3 linked regions of the Homo sapiens genome follow. The protein of the gene in region 3 interacts with the protein of the main gene of each other region in a pairwise test. Each region holds a gene or a part of one and is shown on either strand. Other genes may lie near its edges.

The links. Proteins that work in one complex are often made in the same cells at the same time.
Region 1: the proteins of HINFP (region 3) and NPAT interact in a two-hybrid assay, tested with the Homo sapiens proteins (2 studies listed by BioGRID).
Region 2: the proteins of HINFP (region 3) and NIPBL interact in a two-hybrid assay, tested with the Homo sapiens proteins (one study listed by BioGRID).

What each region holds. Positions count from the first base shown.
Region 1 is NC_000011.10:108,170,619-108,177,650, reverse strand, and holds part of NPAT (protein NPAT), read left to right. Parts: intron 1-560; coding exon 561-657; intron 658-1,276; coding exon 1,277-1,405; intron 1,406-3,799; coding exon 3,800-5,452; intron 5,453-7,032. UniProt on the Homo sapiens protein: Required for progression through the G1 and S phases of the cell cycle and for S phase entry. Activates transcription of the histone H2A, histone H2B, histone H3 and histone H4 genes in conjunction with MIZF.
Region 2 is NC_000005.10:36,872,608-36,879,788, reverse strand, and holds the start of NIPBL (nipped-B-like protein), read right to left. Parts: upstream 3,021-7,181; 5' UTR 2,611-3,020; intron 1-2,610. UniProt on the Homo sapiens protein: Plays an important role in the loading of the cohesin complex on to DNA. Forms a heterodimeric complex (also known as cohesin loading complex) with MAU2/SCC4 which mediates the loading of the cohesin complex onto chromatin.
Region 3 is NC_000011.10:119,117,518-119,124,606, forward strand, and holds the start of HINFP (histone H4 transcription factor), read left to right. Parts: upstream 1-4,062; 5' UTR 4,063-4,122; exon of another isoform or gene 4,123-4,132; intron 4,133-4,265; exon of another isoform or gene 4,266-4,496; intron 4,497-6,050; exon of another isoform or gene 6,051-6,167; intron 6,168-7,089. UniProt on the Homo sapiens protein: Transcriptional repressor that binds to the consensus sequence 5'-CGGACGTT-3' and to the RB1 promoter. Transcriptional activator that promotes histone H4 gene transcription at the G1/S phase transition in conjunction with NPAT.

The sequences.
Region 1 (7,032 bases), about 11 Mb from region 3:
GGAATATATTCACCAAAGTTCTTACCTCTAAGAAGTAGGATTAGGAAACACCTATCTAGTTTTGTTTTAATTTGTTTTAAATGAGCATGTCATTGGAAATTTTCTTGGAGTGGGGGAATGCTACTACATAAAAAGTCAGAAATAGTCGAGTGTCTGCTAATTATTTTGCTGGTATTAAATCATATTATTCACGCTGAGTACAGTGGCCCACATCTATAATCCCAGTGCTCTGGGAGGCTGAGGCAAGAAGATCACTTGAGCCCAAGAGTTCTGGACTACCCTGGGCAAGGTAGCAACCCCATCTCTATCAAAAATAATAATAATAATAAAATAAGCTGGGCATAGTGGTGCACTTGTAGTCCCAGCTACTCAAGAGGCTGAGGCAGGAGCATCAGTTGAGCCCAGGAATTTCAGGTTATAGTGAGCTACAGTGACTCTACCACTGTACCACTACACTCCAGCCTGAGCAAAAGAGTGAGACCCTGTCTTATATATATATAATATGTAAATATATATAAATTCAGTTAGAATCATGCCTTCACGCCACTCCTTTCTTGCAGAGTGAAATTCACATGTCTGAAGAAGCTATACAGGACATATTGGAACAGACAGAATCAGACCCAGCATTTCAGGCACTCTTTGATCTCTTTGACTATGGTAAGGAGACTATTTATTTCAAGACAGAAAAAAAAGGCTTCTACAATTTCTTTGGTAACTTAACCAGAGTGAATCAACATTCCCCAGAGTATCTAAAAAAGTTCTTGTTTTCATTTCATCAAACATTATATGGATATGTTAAAGGAGTGTTTGTTGTTTTGTTTTTAGCTGAGAAACTTTAGCTGTTAAAGTGGAGAGTAGTTTTGTTTTTTATTTTTGTGGCATTTTTGCCAGTCATCAGGGAATGTGTTGATGTCTACCACTATACAAATGTGTTAAACACAATTGAATCGTACAAAGGGAATACAAAAAATTGGCCATTGTCCTCAATCTTATGATTTAGTGCAGTAGTTCTCAAAGTATAGTCCCCCAAACCAACAATCTCAGCATTATCTGAGAACTCGTTAGAAAATGCAAATTACTGGGCTAAAGTTTAAGAAACACCTGTCTAGTGGGAAAATCTTTGTACTTGTAAATGATATTAAAAGCAACATTTTTTAAACATCCATAAAACCCTAAATCGAAGTTTAACATTTGCGTAATCACCAACAAGCTGTATTCATTGATGTTTATTTTTTGTTTTGGTCATTTAATTATTTCCATATTCCCTTTTTAACAGGCAAAACAAAGAATAATAAAAATATATCACAAAGTATTTCCAGTCAACCTATGGAATCCAATCCCAGTATAGTCTTAGCAGATGAAACTAATCTAGCAGTTAAAGGTTCTTTTGAAACAGAAGAATCTGGTAAGAATTTAATTTTGTTAATATCATCAATCCAAATCTTAATATTAGTCTCAAAATTCAAAGGCAGAAAATATTAATTTGGAAGTAGAAGTTGTTCAGATTGTTATAGGTCATTTTTGTATTTTTCTCTCTGTTAAAAACAATTATAAATCTTTGGTAGTTTGATTAAAAGAAAATTTACAGTATTCATTCTTTTACTATAAGCTTTTTTTGTTGGTGTGTGTTTGTTTTTTGAGACAAGGTCTCCCTCTTGTCATCCAGGCTGGAGTGCAGTGGCACAATCATAGCTCACTGCATGCAGCCTCAAACGATGCTCCCAGCACTTTGGGAAGCAGAGGTAGCATTACAGGTGTGAGCCACCACACTCAACCTCATTCCTTTATAATTCAATTCTTGACATGTACAATTTAGTATTAATGTTGTTCAGTTGCTCAAAAGTCTGTAACATTTATTTTTATTAAGGCACATGTTTTTTGTGCACCTGTTTTTAAATGTTATCACCTGCTCCCACCAGTAAAAAATCTGATGGCTTCCAGTGTTCATTCACATCCTGTCCTTGGAGAATCTCAGACTGTGTGCCTCCTTTAATTCCTCTGCCAACAATCAAGTCCAATTCTCCATTTCTTCTTAGGCTGAATTATAGTGGGTTGTGTTTTTTGCAGTATATATTATGTCTAGAAGATTGTGTTTCACTTAAGTTCTTCCCTGTACAAAGTGAAACTTGAAATTCCGTTTTCTGAGAAAGTCATCCTACTTCACTGAGGAACTACTTATCCTGAATTTATGTGGCCTCTATACAATTTCTACTGTTTTCCCCACAATAAGGATTCAGATGTGCTCTGTACTCAGCAGCAAGTGTCACATTTAACAGAATTAGAGTAGTCCCCCCTTATCTATGGGGGATATATTCCAAGCCCCCCAGTGGGTGCCTGAAATTGGGTGGTACCAAAGCCTATATAGTATTTACTGTTTTTTCCTTTTCAGGCATACCTATGGTAAAGTTTAATTTAAAGTTAGGCACAGTAAGAAATTAACAATAGCTAATAATAAAATGGGACAGTTATAACAATATACTGTAATAAAAGTTATGTGAATGTAGTCTTCCTCAAAATATCTTATTGTACTGTACTCACCTATTTTTAGGCTGGTTGACTGTAGGTAACTGAAACCACAGAAAGCAAAACTACAGATAATGGGAGACTGCTGTATATGCTAGTTGACATAAATGTTCTGGTTTTTAAAAAATATTTTTCATACTGATTCAAGTTAATGTTTTCTGTCCTAAATTGTGAATGCTGTATTGTTGTTTTCTGAAACACTTTTTCCAGGCCAGGCACAGTGGCTTATGCCTGTAATCCCAGCAATTTGGGAGGCCAGGGAGGGCAGATTACTTGAGGTCAGGAGTTCAGGACCAGCCTAGCCAACACGGTGAAACCGCGCCTCTACTAAAAATACAAAAGCTAGCCAGGTGTGGTGGCTGGCGCGCACCTGTGATCCCAGATACTCAAGAGGCTGAGGCAGGAGAATCACATGAACCCGGGAGGCAGAGGCTGCAGTGAGCTGAGAATCGCACCGCTGCACTCCAGCCTGGGCGACAGAGCAAGACTCTGTCTCAAAAAAAAAAAAAAAAGGAAATACTCTTTCCTTACTCATATCATACTCTTTTTTTTTTTTTTTTTTTAAGATCTTCTCATACAGTGCCTCCTTTATAATTTTTTCTCATGGTACCTTTTGTTCCTATGCTGTTACAGTTTTTACCATGCTTTCTTATGACTTTCTGTTCTATAGTTGGTTCCTTGACTAACCTCTCCAAGATTAGAGATTGGATCATTCATCTTTGTATCCCAGTAACCAAGTATGGTTGGTCTTCAGTAAATATGTGTTTAATGTTAAACAGTACACAATGAGATCAAGTGTCAATCATGCAAAATGTACTTGGCCCCATCTCACCTTTAAGAATATGTCAGATAAGTTGGGTGTGGTGGCTCATGCCTGTGATCCCAGCACTTTGGGAGGCCGAGACAGTAGATAAATTAAAGTCAGAAGAAATGTTAGAAGTTGAAAAGTTAGTGTTTCAAAATAAACTTCATTTTTGGAGCCAGTATGTTTTTTACCTATTGAAATATTAAACCTCTTTACTTTTTCCTTCTTTGTATCATCTGTCTTCCAAGCTTGGAAAACAAATTGACACTTGTGTAAAAAGTCATCAGTAACTAGAAAGTACCTGTAAATTTTTTGATACTCAGTAAATGGGAAACACAGCGTATCAGACTTCCACTTACTGGTATGCAAAGATGAGTTATTTTCTTGGCAAAATAAGTTTTATGGCAAAAATGACTACCTCAGAAGCTGAACATATTTACCATATCTGTCTACCTGCCTGATACTTTGCAGATGGTCAGTCTGGTCAGCCCGCTTTTTGTACATCCTATCAGAATGATGACCCATTAAATGCTTTGAAGAATAGCAACAACCATGATGTGCTTAGACAAGAAGACCAGGAAAATTTTTCCCAAATAAGTACCAGCATACAGAAAAAGGCCTTTAAAACAGCTGTACCCACTGAACAGAAGTGTGACATTGACATTACCTTTGAGTCCGTGCCTAATTTGAATGACTTTAACCAAAGAGGGAATTCTAATGCTGAATGTAATCCACATTGTGCTGAATTATACACCAATCAGATGTCCACTGAAACTGAAATGGCTATAGGGATTGAAAAGAACTCTTTGTCTTCAAATGTACCGAGTGAATCTCAGTTACAGCCTGATCAGCCTGATATACCAATAACTTCATTTGTTTCACTTGGTTGTGAAGCTAACAATGAAAACTTAATTCTCTCTGGGAAGAGTTCTCAACTTTTATCCCAAGATACTTCATTAACTGGAAAGCCATCTAAAAAAAGTCAATTTTGTGAAAATTCTAATGATACAGTAAAACTTAAAATTAATTTTCATGGTTCCAAGTCATCAGATTCTAGTGAAGTTCACAAGAGTAAAATAGAAATTAATGTGTTAGAACCAGTTATGTCACAGCTATCAAATTGCCAAGATAATTCTTGTCTTCAAAGTGAAATACTACCTGTGTCTGTTGAAAGTTCACATTTAAATGTATCTGGACAAGTAGAAATTCATCTTGGAGATTCGCTGTCTTCTACTAAACAACCATCTAATGATTCAGCATCTGTTGAGTTAAATCATACAGAAAATGAAGCTCAGGCATCCAAGTCTGAGAATTCACAGGAGCCTTCATCTTCTGTAAAAGAAGAGAATACTATTTTTCTCTCTTTAGGTGGAAATGCTAACTGTGAGAAAGTTGCACTGACGCCTCCAGAAGGCACTCCTGTAGAAAACAGTCACTCTCTTCCTCCAGAATCTGTGTGTTCTTCAGTGGGAGATTCTCACCCTGAGTCCCAAAATACTGATGATAAACCTTCTAGCAACAACTCAGCAGAGATAGATGCATCAAATATCGTCTCTCTCAAAGTTATCATTAGTGATGATCCATTTGTTTCCTCAGATACTGAACTTACCAGTGCTGTTTCTAGTATTAATGGAGAAAACCTGCCAACTATAATCTTGTCTTCTCCTACTAAATCACCTACTAAAAATGCAGAACTAGTTAAATGCCTATCTTCAGAAGAAACTGTAGGTGCTGTTGTATATGCCGAAGTAGGGGATTCAGCCTCAATGGAACAGAGTCTTTTAACATTCAAATCTGAAGACTCTGCAGTAAACAATACTCAGAATGAAGATGGCATTGCTTTTTCAGCTAATGTTACACCATGTGTTTCCAAGGATGGAGGATATATACAGTTGATGCCAGCCACAAGCACAGCTTTTGGCAATTCAAATAACATTCTGATAGCTACCTGTGTGACTGATCCAACAGCGTTAGGAACATCTGTAAGTCAGTCTAATGTAGTGGTGTTGCCTGGAAATTCTGCACCTATGACTGCTCAACCTCTACCACCTCAGTTACAGACACCACCAAGGTCAAACAGTGTATTTGCTGTCAACCAAGCTGTGTCACCAAACTTTTCACAAGGTAACTTTAATAACATAATTGAAATTTGTTTCTCTGGGTTGGGATCTAATTTCTTTTGTATGTGATGTTATTGACTGCGAAGTAATAACTAATGAGTAGATGGTATGAGAAAAGATTCTGAAATTTGTGATTACGCTGCTTCTTTATGCTAGCTAATTCAAACCTTTTTTATTTTTCTTAATCTGCTAGTAAGCTATGGGCTTTAGTGGTTTTTCTTTTTTCTTTTCACAAATACTTCTCAATCTATGTGCTAGTAAGTTACAATAAACAGAAAAGACAGACTAATTCATCACATAGTTGTATAAAACCCAATGTTGTGGGGGAGTTTTTAAAAATAGCTCTTATAGTCATGGTCTTCAGGGAATTCATCATCTTTTTGGAGAAATTTTCAAGAAAAACTTGAATTTCAGCCGGTTATGGTGGCTCACGCCTGTAATCCCAGCACTTTGGGAGGCCGAGGTGGGCCGATCGATCACCTGAGGTCAGGAGTTTGAGACCAGCCTCGAGAACATGGTGAAACCTCATTTCTACTAAAAATACAAAAAAATGAGCCAGGCATGGTGGCAGGTGCCTGTAATTACAGCTACTTGGGAGGCTGAGGCAGGAGAATCTCGTGAACCCAGGAGACAGAGGTTTCAGTGAGCCAAGATCATGCCATTGCACTTCAGCCTGGGCAACAAGAGCGAGACTCTGTCTCAAAAAAAAAAAAAAACTTGAATTTCTTCCTTTATAAAATCCTTTCTAATTGATCTCTGTCTTTAAAATCCTTTGTTTATGGCTGGGCTCAGTGGCTCATGACTGTAATCCCAGCACTTTGGGAGGCCGAGGCGGGCAGATCACCCGAGGTCAGGAGTTCAAGACCAGCCTGGCCAACATGGTGAAACCCCGTATCTACTAAAAATACAAAAATTGGCATGGTGGTGGGCACCTGTAATCCCAGCTGCTTGGGAGGCTGAGACAGAAGAATCTAAAGCTGGGAGGCAGAGGTTGCAGTGAGCCAAGATCGCACCACTGCACTTCAGCCTGGGTGACAGAGTAAGACTCTGTCTCCAAAAAAAAAAAAAAAAAAAAAAATCCTTTTTTCATAGGGGCTCTTGTGGCATTTATTGCGTGCTGTGTTATATGTAGTTAGTGATTGATATGCCTATCATATTGATAATTTTTTATTGTATGTTCCTCAGAGATAGTGCTCATGGCACATTTATTTACATTTCCTTATGTGTTGGTTCCCAAGCTTCCCTCTTTTCCCTTTTTGTTACATTATAGACATACAATAAAATTTCATTAAATATCAACAATTAGTATTAAACCTAATGGGTCTGTTTTACGTGCTGTTACAAATTACATAAAGGAGAGGTCAGAATTAATAGAGAATGTGGGGCTTGAGCTAAAGCTTAAAGAATGAAGGTAGGATTTGGAGTTAAAGCAAGGAAGTTTTTATAACTTATAAAATCTGTAAGTTATAAAGAGAAGCAGCACCAGCATAGACAGAGAGACCGTAGTAGGTTGCATGAAAATGAGGGGATCAACCTGACAGTAGTGTATTAGGCAAAAGTTTGTTTATGGACAGGACTAAATTA
Region 2 (7,181 bases), on a different chromosome or scaffold from region 3:
TCAGAGTTAAGAGAAACAATAAGCGACATTGTTGAAATTTCCTTTAGGTGTATGAGAAAATATTTCTCCAAATAATATAACTAGGATTATAAGGTTACTGGAACACTTCTGATTTCTCCTTTCACTGAATTTTAATTTTTAATGGAAATAGATGATTAGCCACTAGTGAATATTCCAACCAACAGAGGGGAAGCAGAACACTCTACACTCTTTAGGGAAACAAACTATTCTCTCCAACTAGGTTATCAGAGATTTAAAGTTCAAGTTTAAATTTTACAATTTGAATTTTACACAATGTTTTCTCCTTTAAAAATGACGTATTTAATTGGTTTGGACCAAACAAAACATATTTTTAAATTTAAAGAAATGTTTATGCTATCATAATGAAAGCTATCACACAACCTATATTACTCACAAATTACTAAATATGTAGAATTGGGAAAATAAGTTGGGAAGAACTAATTCACTATAACAATTCCAAAGTCTCAGGAAAAAAAAGAATCAATCACATAAACCCATCTCTAACACACTTATTCAAACATCTGCATAAGACAACCTCTAAAAATAAGTTGCTTCAGTTCGTGAAAATTAAGCAAGCACAACTCCTCTATTATCTTTAGTAAAAATATGTTTATCCCTTGAAATAAAAGTTGTAGAGACAATCACAGGAATATATGAAGGCCTTTTAAACATTTATAATGAAGCCCTTACCACCTCCATCCCCAAAAAAACAAACCCTCTGCTTTCTTAAGATGTGAAGTATTCCTCCCGTCTGCATTCCCTCCCTGGCATGCCCCCCACTCGCACACCCCCCCACCCGCAGTAGGCCTGAGGCCCCGTAGCAAACAGTGTCTAACAGGAGCAGGCAGCACAAAGACAGGAATGGGAGATTAGTGGGAGGGAGGGAGGCCGGGATTGGGGCTCAGCAGGAGCTTCAGGCTTTTTAAAATTCAAACTGCTCCCTGACCAATACAAATCACGGACACGCTACTGACTACTACACGGATTTATAGCATTAAAAACATGCCTAGTACGTGACAGCTATATTAACTTCATTCTTTTAAACATTTATCCGTACGTTTGCAGGAAATGTGAAACAATTTATTGTAATCAGGACGCTAAACTCAAAAATAACCTCCACAAAATAACTTATTCTACAGTGACAATAATTTAATGACACAAAAAATATGAACCAATGTAACAAACACTAGTAAAACAAGGGATTTCGCTGAGCAGTGCTGCTTCATTTTAACCAATGAAAGTTTTCCTTCAGCGAATATGAAACAAAATATCAAAACGTGTAACCCAGGTACACTTTTCTAGCAATTTGCCTGACTGAGGAATTTTAAATTGGTGTTTCCCCCTTATACCAACCTACATTATGAACGCCTCCATAAACAAGCTCGAAACACTTAACTTACTCATGAACTAGAACTTGTCAAGTTAGAACTGATATTTTTCTCCAGCATTTACAGATACATTTAACCTATTAAAATGACACCTCTCTCATTACACAGTCAAACATCATGGCACAAACAGCCAATGACAATCCTGGGACCTCAAGAAGAACTGCCCTGACATAAAAGGATGGCACCTTCTACAATTTTTTAACCTCCCAAGGATTTTAAGTATAACTTAATTTCTTTTTTGGAAAAAGAAAAGAAAAGTGGTTTTACCCGTATCTCAGCACAATTCTCAGAACACTTAAAATTCTTTGTATGCTCCTACACGTTTTGGTCAGGAAGTACCTGAGTGTTTTACGTATAGTCGCTTAAAACTGCCCTTACATAACGCATACAAATAGAAAGTGGCAGAGTAAACCTGTCAAGTACTTTATACTTGTCTTTGAATAAAAAGTCCATGTGCAACAACACACTGTCAAAACAACAAGATAAAAGCTCTTGGGGAGGGGGAGATGTGCAGTGTCTACCACAGTATGTTTTTCTGTATTAAATATTCATGTGGACGATTTAATTCTTTAAAAAAGAAAATGAGTCTTTATGAACTTTCCAACGTCCAAACAAGTTTTAGAAAGAGAAAGAATTACCACTGGATCCGCGTCTGAGTATTTACGTTTGTCTCACTAACTGAAACTACTTCCTCCCTTCATGGGGTCACAGGGGGAAGAAGGGAGGTTGTTTGTTTCACTGGGACGTTCCCCACTCCCGGACCGGGAAAGTTGTAAATATGGGGACGATCAGGGCACATTTGCTGTTAGTTGTATTGTTTCCGCCTCCCCACTAGCTACGGCTCCACTCCCGGGCGAGGCCTGTCACCGACCAGCAGTCGCTCCGCTCAGCCCGGAGCTCTCCTAATCCCCGAGCTCAAGTAGATTCCGCTGGCCCGCGGCCTGCACTCTCCGCCGGGCCTACGCCTCCCCGGCCGCCCAGCAGGAGCCCAGTCCCCGCCACCGGAGCCGGCCGGGAGAGGGTACAAAACCACCGCTACCCAAGGCGGCTGCCACCAGAGAGGAGCGAACTCTAGACTCGCCTGTGGAAGAGACCTGGGGCCGCTAAGGAAACGGCGGGGAGGGGAGCGAGGAGGAGAGACGCTGAGGACCTGGCGCCGGCGCCGCCGCCGCCGCCGCCGAAATAAAGAGCAGGAATTTACCTGGGCGAATCGGCGTCTGAATCCAAGGGGAGGCCGAGGCCGCTGTGGCGAGAGACTATAATCCGGGCCGGGAGGGGGGGTGGCTACGGCTCCTCTTCCGTCTCCTCAGTGCGGGGAACATGTAGAGCCGGGGGGAGACCAGCCGAGAAGACAAATCGTTGCTTCTTCTTCCTCCTCCTCCTCCTTCTCCCACATAGAAACACTCACAAACACCCGACCACGGGCCCGAGCTACCGGGGGGGCATCGCCGCGGGCCCGGGAACCAATTCTCCTGTCGGCGGGGGCGTCCCTCCCTGCGGCTTGGTGGTGTCGGGTGAGTCGGTACCGACGGAGGGAGGGGGGGGAGGGCGGGGGGAAGGAGCCCTGTGTGTGTCTCTCTCTCGTTCCGTCTCTCCCTCTCAGAACAAAATGCCGACCGGAAGTGCAGCTGCAGGAATGACTCCCTCCGCCGGCGCCAAACACTAACAACCACCCCCTCTTCCCCACTCCACTTCCGCCACCGCCGCAGCCGCCGCTGCCGCCACTTGGGCTCGCGTCCTCGGCCGCGCCGCGCGGCACCCGGGCCCAGCAGCCGGGAGGCGGCAGCTCTCCTCTACGCCCGTCCCCTCAGGGCGGCTGTGGATGTTGCCAGTATTGTCGATGCTTCAGAGCGACGTTTGCCCTGCGACACAGGCGGGCCGGCTCTCCTCTGTCTTTATTTTCCTGGAGGCCGACAGGAGCGGGGCCCGAGTTCGGTGGTGGTCGTGAGCGTGGGGGGCACTCAGGCCCGGACGGGCTCTCAGGTCGCCGACGGCGGCGGCTGGAGGCCGCGCTGGCTGTCCCAGGTCGTCGTTAGCTTTAGGGAGCCGATCTCCGGGCGGCCCCACAGAGGACGCCCGCGATTCGATGGCGATGATGCCCGTTTTAAATGGTGTCCCTGCAGCCGGGTGGATGGATGGATCGTACACCTTGCCTTTTGAGAGCCGGGACCTTACGCCCGACTGCGTGTTATTTCTGCGAATAAGAACGCAACCTTTGGAGGTGAAGACGACTGTCGGCTGGATTGAATTGGAATCGTGTTTGTGATGATGCGTTTATTTCTGGAAATACGCGGTCTCCGCTGCTTTTGCTTTTTGTCGGCAGAGGTTTGGGTTCTTCTCTAACGGTCAGGATAAAGGCCTGTAGGCGACGCTGCGCGAGCGAGAAGCTCGCCCGCGGCTGCCCGGGCGCCCCCCTCTAGGTGTGGGTGGAGCCGAGCGCGCGGGGAGAACCGCCGGCCCCGACTCAGCCACCGGTGACTGCGGGCGACCCGCGGGCCTGCGGCCAGCTGATTTCAAACATCGTTTTCCTCTTTAGGTTCGGAAAACTGAGGCGCTGGACAAGGCTGGAATACAATATGTGATTATACGTACAGTACTATGGTTGTTGTAGTTTTTAAATTGTAAAACAAGAAGTAACCATTGTTCCACCGTTCTCTATTAAGTTTGTGTAAATTAAAAAGGGGCTATTTTCGGTAAAAAGTGCAGTAGGTAAGCGGAATTTTACTCAACCGGGACGAAATTCGTGTTATATGAATTGTATTGTGTATTTGTGTGTGTACCAGTGCGCTAAAAGTAAGTAGGAAAACTTGCTTAGATTATTCCTTTTGCCTCAGGCCACTCAGGGGGCCAAGATCCTGTCACTCCTTTTCTCTAGGCCCTGCGAATGGCTTCCCGTCTTGAGGGGAGTGAGCCAAAGCCTTGACTGCGGCAGAAGTCCCCGCGCGCCGTTGAGGGTGGGGGCGGGCCTGCCCTGGCATCCTTGCGAGTAGGACTCTTCCCTGAGCGTCGTCCACAGGGCTTGCTCCTTCACCTTCAGGATTTTGCTCGTGTCACTCGGTGCTTCCGCGGCTACTTTTAAACTGAAAGTTCCCTAGCCCCCTTCTCATTTTATCCTTTGGACAGTCTACATATCCATACTTGTTTATCTTCTTATCTCTCCTTCCCCAGTGCAATGTAAGCTCTAAGAGGACAAGAGGTTGTGTTTTTCTGCACTGGTGTTACGGCCCCCGCCTAGAATGCCACACAGTAGATGCGTAGTATGTGGTTAAGGAATGAATGCGATTATAAGGGCCTTGATGCTCCCCCATTTCTGTCTTTAATATGTACTTATATGCTACAGAGAGCTTTATAAAAGATTTAAAACACGTTTATTACAGAATTCTATAAAAATATATTGCTTCTAAACATTGGAAAGCCCTCCACAACACCAGAAACCCACAAATGAGGGATAAAATTTGTTTTTAGGCTTCTGTAAATGAGCATGCCCGAGGACAGTGCATCAAATGATCATATCCATACTGGGCCGATTATGTTTGCTCTTCTGAGTCTCAAACTGCATTCTTCATCTTGTCGTCCTCTGTCTTTCAAAATACATTAAAAGTGAGAATTTGGTTGGCTCAGAGCAAATCCAGCACTATTGGAAAAGTTCATTCAGCAAGTATTTATTGGGCACAAATGGGTACCAGGCACGCTAATTCAAAAGGTGTGTGTTTCTGAGGCTAGAAGGCCTTACATAAAGGACCACATGTGGCTACTTTGGTTGCTACTCAATTATGCTGTCAAGCAAAGCAAATGCTAGTGAAATTTATTTTTAGTTTTCTTCTGAAGAAAAGGTTCAATGAAAGCTGAGGTCAGGCTTGGTGTGGATATTTTAATTCACCATTTAGTTTGCTGTTTGCTTACACTTAGGTTAGCATTAGATATACTTAATCATGATTTTTGAGTACTATAAAACGTGAGAAATCTTATTTCCTAGTGGCTGGAAAAACAGGCTTTTTAAATTAAAATAAGTAAATATATCAGTAAGCTAGAAGCTATGCAATAAGGCTTTGGCTATGGTATTACAAATTTTCATATTTCATGTATTGAATTTTTGGACAAGAAAAGACAGCCTTGATAGGTATTTTATAACCATTAATACAATTAATCAAACATTGTTTAGTAAATCCAATCGTCTATTCATTATTATTTTTCCCATTAATCTTCAGAACAGCTTTAAGTTAATACAGATGACTCAGAATGTGTTTTTCACTCAGTTTCAAAATACCATTATTTCAATTCGCTAATAGAAGCACAATTATCTTCTTGTCTGCTTTCTTAAATGTTACTGGTAAACTAGTAATTTTGCATGTCCAGGTAACTGCAGCTGCTACAGTCAATCTGCTTTGGAAAGTCTTGGCATTATTGTGTCATTTAATTTAAAATTTTTAAGTTTTTTTAGTTTCTTCCCTTATTGAGGACTTATTAGGCGCTAATTAGCTTTATGCTAGACATCTCATGCATGGCAGTGAATGAAAACAACACTGCCTTTGAGGGTTTTAACTTGTATATAGTTTATACCATTTTTTTTCCAGGTTATAGAATCAAAGAAATTGTTTCAATTCATATCACAGTATTTCTCTATTAAATCAAATGGTATTTTGCTTGCATAAATTTAAGTATCCAAGTTGAGATCTTACATAGAATCTGTTAATCTAATATTAGTGTTTTCTTCATTTCATTGTCTTGGGTTTTTTTTTCTTAATAATTATTTTTCCCAATACCATCCATTTGTTTTGCTCTTACATTTTTAAGTCTTTTATGTTCCAAATCAGGTGACTTACATCCTCCACTTGTCCATTGAGGATAGCCCAGTAAACCTTTATTCTGACTTTAAATTGCCTCCTTGCTTCAAGAACTGAGTTGCATGACTCAGTTTTCTTTGCTAGAAATATCCCTGGATAGTCTCGTATGTATTCTTGATCAATGAATTGCAGAAGATTTGATTAAAAATTTTAAATGGATTTCAGGGATAAACTATTTGTATCAAATGTCATCACCAGGAATTTCTACAACTGAAAAATTTGAATTGTTATTTTTATTGAAGAATATTTATCTTTAAGATAAATGCAACTTGCTATAAAATGATAGAAATGAAAAATTTTAGAAAATCATTTTCTACTCACTATTTTATGCCTGCCAGTTATCCTTTGTTAGTGATAAAATTGTCTTTTATGGGAACGAATTTGTTAAAGGTAGAAAAAAAACTGGTAGTGTATGTATGTTTTATAGATTAGACACTACCAAAATTATTTAACATTTAGAATAATTAACTTGCTTTCAGGATGACAGATGACTTAAGAAACTGATGAAGGGTTAATTAAGGATATTGATTTTTAGGGCAGAACTACAAAATTATCAAATCACTTAACACTGTAAATATGTTCCTGTTTCAGGTTTTCAAAGTAAATACCTTAATCAAATTTGGAAATAGTATTTATGGATTTTATTCAACATAGATTATCTATTTTGTTAAAATTATAGAAATGAACAGTTCTTTTCCCATGGATGCCTTTTTTCATCTTGGCCTATTCTGATCCTTTAAGAACAAGCTTTGTCCTTTCATTAATACTTCTCACCTATAATTACGAATTTTCTCTAAACTTGTAGATTTTATTATCCATGCCATCTATTTATAATCCTATGACACTCCTATATTGTTTATGGTTTTTTTGTTTTTTTTTGTTTTTTTTTTTAGACGAAGTCTTGCTCTGTCACCCAGGCTGGAGTGCA
Region 3 (7,089 bases):
TCTGTAAAATGGGAACTTCAATCATCATGGCTATCATTTGGTTGTGGATGAGAAGTAAATGAAGTGCTGAGTGTTAACTGTTGCCTCAGAAGAAACTGGGAGGGGGAAGTCTTAGAAGTGTTTCAACATAATAAAAGCTCTCTCATTCTGAAATGTGGGCAAATTTCAGGGATTGATAGATCCTAGCAAACTGTGTCCCTGGTTCCCGTGCTTGAGATCTTATACAGGACTTGAACCAGGTAAGCTGCTACAGGATATTGGGCAGAATGCAGGACCAGGAAGCAAGAAAACTGAGTCTGCCACAGACAAACCAAGTGATCTTGAGCAGGCAACTTCTCCTTTGGGGACCTCAGTTTCCTCATATCTAAAATAAGGGTGACCTGGATAAACATTCAGGTCACTTCCAGCCTTGACATTCTATGACTACCTATATCTCAGGGTGTTTAGGGCACATGCCTTTGGGTAGATAGCATGTGGAAATTGTTACTATTCCCCATGCTCCTGTCCACACTACTCACCAAATATGAGATATCCGGGAAGAATGGAGGGTATAGATTTTTTTTTTCAATTAGATAATTTAGTTTTATATATTTGGGGGGACAAGTGCAGGTTTCTTACATGCATATATTGCATGCATAGAGGTGAAGTCTGGGCTTTTTTTAGTGTGCGCATCGCCCAAATAGTGAACATCATACCCAATAGGTAGTTTTTCAACCCTCACCCTCCTCCCACCTTCTCACCTTTCATAGTCTCCGATGTCTTTTATTCCACTCTATATGTCCATGTATACCCATTATTTAGCTCCCACTTATAAATGAGAATATGCCATATTTGACTTTGTTTCTGAGTTATTTCACCGAGGATAATGGCCTCCAGTTCCACCCATGTTGCTGGAAAACACATGATTTCATTCTTTTTTATGGCTGAGTAGTATTCCACTGTGTGTGTGTGTGTTGGGCGATGATAATGATGTCCATTGCTGTGTGACAGCTTGGAATTTAATTTATTAAAGTCAAGTTGGAGTTTATAAACTGCATTTTCTTTATCACTCACTACATTAACTACGTTTTCTTTATCCAATCCTCCATTGATGGACACATCGATTTGGTTGATTTTTATGTAGTGAAATGTTCAATTCTAAGTCATGAAAATTCAAAGAGATTTTTCAAGCTGTTTCCCCAGTCTAAGAAATGTAACTCTTAGTGGTTCACAGAGGAACAGTTTTTCTACCAGTATGACACGACAACCAAACACAGTGAACTTGTGATTGCACAAGAAACTTTTGTTGATGGGAGAACAGGTATTCAGAGTTCTACAGGACCTGGGGAATGAGTAGATGGTAACTGGAATCTGTATTGAGCTTCCAGTACTGAGCTGCCCAGAGTTCCATGGAATCACATATTTTAGTGAAGAAGAGCCTGATCACGTTTCAAAAATAGGGAATTTTTAAATGAATGAAAAAAATACGAAACATATTTTCATCAACTTAATCCATTTCACACTTTCAGAAGGGATCCACAGCTTTTAATGAGTATGAATTATGCTTTCAGTTTTTGTGGCAGCTTTTAAAGAACAAATCTCAGGATATGTCTGAATTACCCAGCCAAAATTGTGGCTTGTTTTCAAGAGAAGCAGATTGAGATAGAAGTAAACTATGCTAGACAGAATGACACTGCTTTAAATTTTGGAAACATATATATGGATCCCAGAGCAATCCTGAAATTTTTGCTCTGTAACCTATGTTTGAGTTTACACAGCTCTGTGAATGAACTTTTTCTTCATAAAATTGCTAAATAAAGCTAAAAGCTATTTTCAGTGGTGTAAATCTGAATTAAAATGAGGATGGCATTTCATGAAGTACTACTATATGCATTTTTGAATGAATAAAGTTGGTAAGATATATTTTGTTACTTTTGAATTACATTTTTTAAAACGCTTTTTTTTTTTTTTTGAGACAGAGTCTCTCTCTGTTGCCCGGGCTGGAGTGCAGTGGAGTGATCTTGGCTCACTGCAACCTCTGCCTCTCAGGTTCAAGCGATTTTCCTGCCTCAGCCTCCTGAGTAGCTGGCACTACAGGCACCCACCACCACACCTGGCTAATTTTTGTATTTTTTGTAGAGATGGGGTTTCGCCATGTTGGCCAGGCTGGTTTCGAATTCCTGACCTCATGATCCGCCCGCCTCGGCCTCCCAAAGTGCTGGGATTACAGGCATGAGCCACCGCGCCCTGCAAAACCCTATTTTAAAATAGGGACCAAGTTATAACTCACTGTTGTTAAAACCAAAATTTATGCACAAGTATGACTTTACTATCTTAATGGCATTTTAAATTTTATTTTATATATATTGAACATTTAATGTGTTTTCTGATTGTACAAATTATATAGGTTTATTTTTAGATTAGAAGATACAGAAAACTACAATGCAATAAAATATCAGTCTTAACCAACTTTATTAAGGTATATTATTTAACAAGTATGTCTTGAACCCTTACTGAGTTTCAGCCACTGGGCTAAGTGAGTGATGGGTTTTTTGTTTTATTTTGTTTTTTGTTTTGTTTTGAGACAGAGTCTTGCTCTGTTGCCCAGGCTGGTGTGCAGTGGTGCCATCTCAGCTCACTGCAACCTGTGCCTCCTGGGTTCAAGCGATTCTCCTGCCTCAGCCTCCCGAGTAGCTGAGATTATAGGCGCCCGCCACGATGCCCAGCTAGTTTTTGTATTTTTAGTAGAGACGGGGTTTCCCCATGTTGGCCAGGCTGGTCTTGAGCTCCTGACCTCATGTGATCCACTCGCCTCGGCCTCCCAAAGTGCTGGGATCACAGGCGTGAGCCACGACACCCGGCCCACTGATGGAGTTATAAAGGTGAAGAACTAGTCTAGTGAAGAATGCAGACTGAGAGTAAACAGACAAATACAATGTGACTGAGCTGTATTGTTAAATACAAGAAAGGACTATCAGGAAGACTTTTTGGAAAAAGAAGCATCTACACTGAGACCATAAAAATTAGTAGGAGTCAGTCAAATAAATGTGGGAGGAGGAGAAAGGGATTATTCCAGGTAAAGAAAACAAGTTCAAGGCTTGAGAGGTAAAAGGTGGCTTGGTGTGGTGGAAAAGGTGAAAGAAATTTGCGACTGGAGAGCAAGAAATATGGTCGAGAAGGACTAAAAAAAAGTAGACAGGGAGAGCCCAGATGCTGAAGGGTCTAGAAAACCTCAGTATGGTTTTGGAGCTTTGCCCTGAAAGCAATAGAATGCCTTTGAATTGTCTGAAGCAGATGGTAACTTGATCAGGTCTGCTTTTTGCAAAGTGGAGAATGCTTTGGAAGGAAGCAAGTGTGCACGCAGCGGGACCCATTAGACTAATGTATAAATCCTGCCTGGAGGTCATCACTGGACAGGGGAGGTGGGGGAGGCGGTGAAGATAAACAAAAGGGGATAAATTTGAAATATCCTGTTTTAAAAGGAGGTAGAATCCACAGAACTTGGCAATGGATTGGATGTGAGAAGTGAGAGGAATCAGTGATGACTGCCAGCTTTCTGACCTGAACGAGTGGATGAAGGGAAGCCGAGTTTTGGGGGGAAAGAGAAACATATAATACCAACATTTAAAACATAATAAGACTAAGAGGCTGAAGGAAAGGGTAGAACCTTCAATCTGAGCCGAGCGGGGCCGACAGCGCTGGGCAGCATCCCACGCCTTTTTCTCCGCGAGGCCCACGCAACCAGCCAACTAAAGCGAAGAACCACGTGAGGGAGACCCCACTGCGCACCAGGCGCGAGCCCTGCGCATGCCCGTTGGGTCCCGGAGGCCGAGCCTGCGCAGTTAGGGGAACTCAGGCCCATAGGCTCCCCGCCTTTGCGTTGCCCTGAGCAGCGAGGCGCGGTCACGTGCTACCTTTTGCACGTATCCTGTCGCCCCTCTGTCCGCCCGGGACGCCTAGCCCCACCCACTGTTCCCGCCCCTTCCGTGTTTTGGTGCGCACGGGTTCCGCCAGACACAGCTACCATTGGCTGTCAGTCGGATCCGAGAACGACGATTGGCTTTCCTTGACCGTCCCTCAAGCGCCTCTCCGGAGATGGTCTGAGGTGGGAGAAGAGCTGAAGAGACCTGGAGCCGACAGACGGTAAGCTGGGGTATGTGCTCTGCAGGGGCTGCAGGAGGCCAAGCTCTTCCCGAGCCACCTCGGCGAGTATTCTTGCCGCTTGGCCACGCTGGTCTGCCCTGGTCCGGTCCCCTCACCCCGACTGGAACCTCCCTGCTTTCTAGTCTAGGGGCTTCGCTGCGGCTGAGACTCGGTCGCCGCCACGCCTTAGCGTGAAGGATTCCGGGAAGCCTGCGGGACTGCGAGTGGAGAGGTTTTGCCCAACGGGACGGTCTCCTTCCTTCTGTCCAAATTCTACCTGTCCTTCGAGGCGTGGTGCGGGCCCCACTGCTTAGGGGAGACTTCCTTTTCGCCTGACCGCGGAGGTGTCTCTCTGTCCTGGTCTCCCTCATCGGGTACTTTGTTTCGGTCGTTGTCTTCACGTATCAGTCTTATCTTTTTGGCCAAATTATGAGTTCTTAGGCGTTTAGGACCCTTTTTTTCTTGAATACCACAGTTCATTCATTGTCTTGCGTTACAGTATATGCCCTCTTAAGTGTTAAGAGGGTAGAGTGAAGATCATGCCCCTATCTCCTCAGAGTAGAAACAAGAGACACAGAAAGAGAAATTAAAGAAGACAGGAGGACAGTCAGAGAGCGTCAGGGAGTTTTGCCTAGGTTTCAGATCATTCTGTATCGCCAGCTAGCTTGCCTCCTTGGACTTACCCACCAGTCTAACAGCAGGTGTATGTTTAGAATATTTGTGCTCGGCACAGTGTAGGGACACGGGCAGGTGTGATATGGTTTCTGCTCAGAAGCTTCTTATAGTCCAATTGGGTAAACGAGACTAGAACACATAAAACGACCATGGCAACATGAAAATAGGGTTGAAGTTTTATGGTGTCAGCTGTGCCAGCCATAGAACTAAGGAGCAAGAGTAGATTCAGGGATGGGGTAGTTTAGGAAGGCTTCCCGGAATGTGATTATCTCCTGATATTTATTGAGTACCTGGGGTGTGCAAAGCTCTGTGCTGAATCTGAGAATGAGAAGTGAATAAGTGATGGCCACTGTCCTGAGAAACTCCTAGTCTAGGGGAAACAAGTTTCATTGCATTGATAGCAAAGATGTGTGTGGATGCCGTGGGCAAGAGATGGGATATGCCAGCTGTACCTGGATGAATTGGGAAGGGGGTCATCAAAGAGAAGACTTTGGGGTTTGAAAGGCGAATAGAAGTTGCATAGGTAGGCCTGTCGCGGTGGCTCACACCTGTAATCCCAGCACTTTGTGAGGCCGAGGCGGGCGGATCACTTGAGGTCAGGAGTTTGGGACCAGCCTGACCAACATGGCAAGACCTCGTCTCTACTAATACTACAAAAATTAGCTGGGCGTGGTGGTGCGTGCTTATAGTCCCAGCTATAATACTTCGGAGGCTAAGTCACGAGAATCGCTTGAACCTGGGAGGCGGAGGTTGCAGTGAGCCCAGATCACAGCACTGCACTCCAGCCTGGGCGACAGAGCAAGACTCCATCTCCAAAAAAAAAAAAAAAAAAAAAAAGAACTTGCGTAGGCAGAGAGTTTTAGGAGAATGTAGAGTATTCAGAGACAAAGATGATTGAATCAGAGGAAGAGGGAATGAAGTATGGGTGAGGAAGCCAGAGAACAGCATCATGTGGGAGAAAGAGCATGATCTTTGGATTGGAATGAGGGTGCTCTTACATCAGATGAAGTGTAGAGAGGACTCACCACAGGGCTGACACACTGTAGCTTCTCAATAGATGTTCGTTTCCCTACCTAGAACTGGAGAAGTAAAATTGAGACCACTTTGAGAAGAGCCTTGCATTTCATACTGTAATAGTCAGAGGAGGTGTGGGATTTTATGACTTTTGAAGCTTTTTTCTACTTTTCTTACCACAACATTATAAAAGCAGTCAATATTCAATATTTCTTTCTTCTTTTTTTTTTTTTTGACAGGGTCTGGGTCTGCCGCCCAGGATGGAGTACAATGGTGTGATCTTGGCTCTTTGCAACCTCTGCCTCCTGGGCTCAAGCCTTCCTCCCACCTGAACCTCCCAAGTAGCGGGACTGCAGGTGCATGCTACCACATCGGCTGTTTTTTTTTTTTTTTTTTTTTTTTTGAGATTGAATCTTGCTCTGTCACTAGGCTGGAGTGCAATGGTGCGATCTCGGCTCACTGCAACCTCTGTCTCCCGGGTTCAAGTGATTCCCCTGCCTCAGCCTCCATAGTAGCTGGGACTACAGGCGTGTGCCACCATACCTAGCTAATTTTTTGTATTTGGCCAGGATGGTCTCAATCTCCTGACCTTGTGATCCCCTCGCCTCGGCCTCCCAAAGTGCTGGGATTACAGGCATAAGCCACTGCGCCCGGCTGATTTTTGTATTTTTAGTAGAGACGGAATTTTGCCATGTTGCCCAGGCTGGTCACAAACTCCTGAGCTCAAGCCATTTGCTCACCTCAGCCTCCCAAAGTGCTAAGATCGTGAGCCACTGCACTCGGCCCAGCAGTCAATATTTGTAATAGGGATTCACTAGTAGTCTGTGAGCAGCTCAGCAACCCTATATGCACCCCAGAGTGTTAAGGATGACTGGATTCTTCTCTGAGGAGGAGAAAAGGCTATGTAGGTACAGTAGGTATAGTGGGTTCAGAAAAGCCTGTATTGGGGGCATGAAGGATCTTCTGTTTTTTCGTATTTTCTGTTTTTTTTCCTTTTAGTATTCAGTAAAGGCCTTTTTTCAGAGTTCCCACCTGTCTCAGGTAGGCCAGAGAGAGCAACATGGTGGGGTCAGCAAGAATCCGTGAGAATTCCTGAGGAGAAGGTGACACTCAGGAGACAGAGCCAAGGCCGGCTAGTGTCCTCTCTCTAGCAGAAATTTTGCTTGCAACGTCACCCTCTGTTCTGTGTTTCGTTTATTCTTTAATTGTTACTCAAAGTATGCTTCTGGAACTGCTTGCATCACAACTGGGGTGCTGAGTTAAAAGGGCAGATTTCTA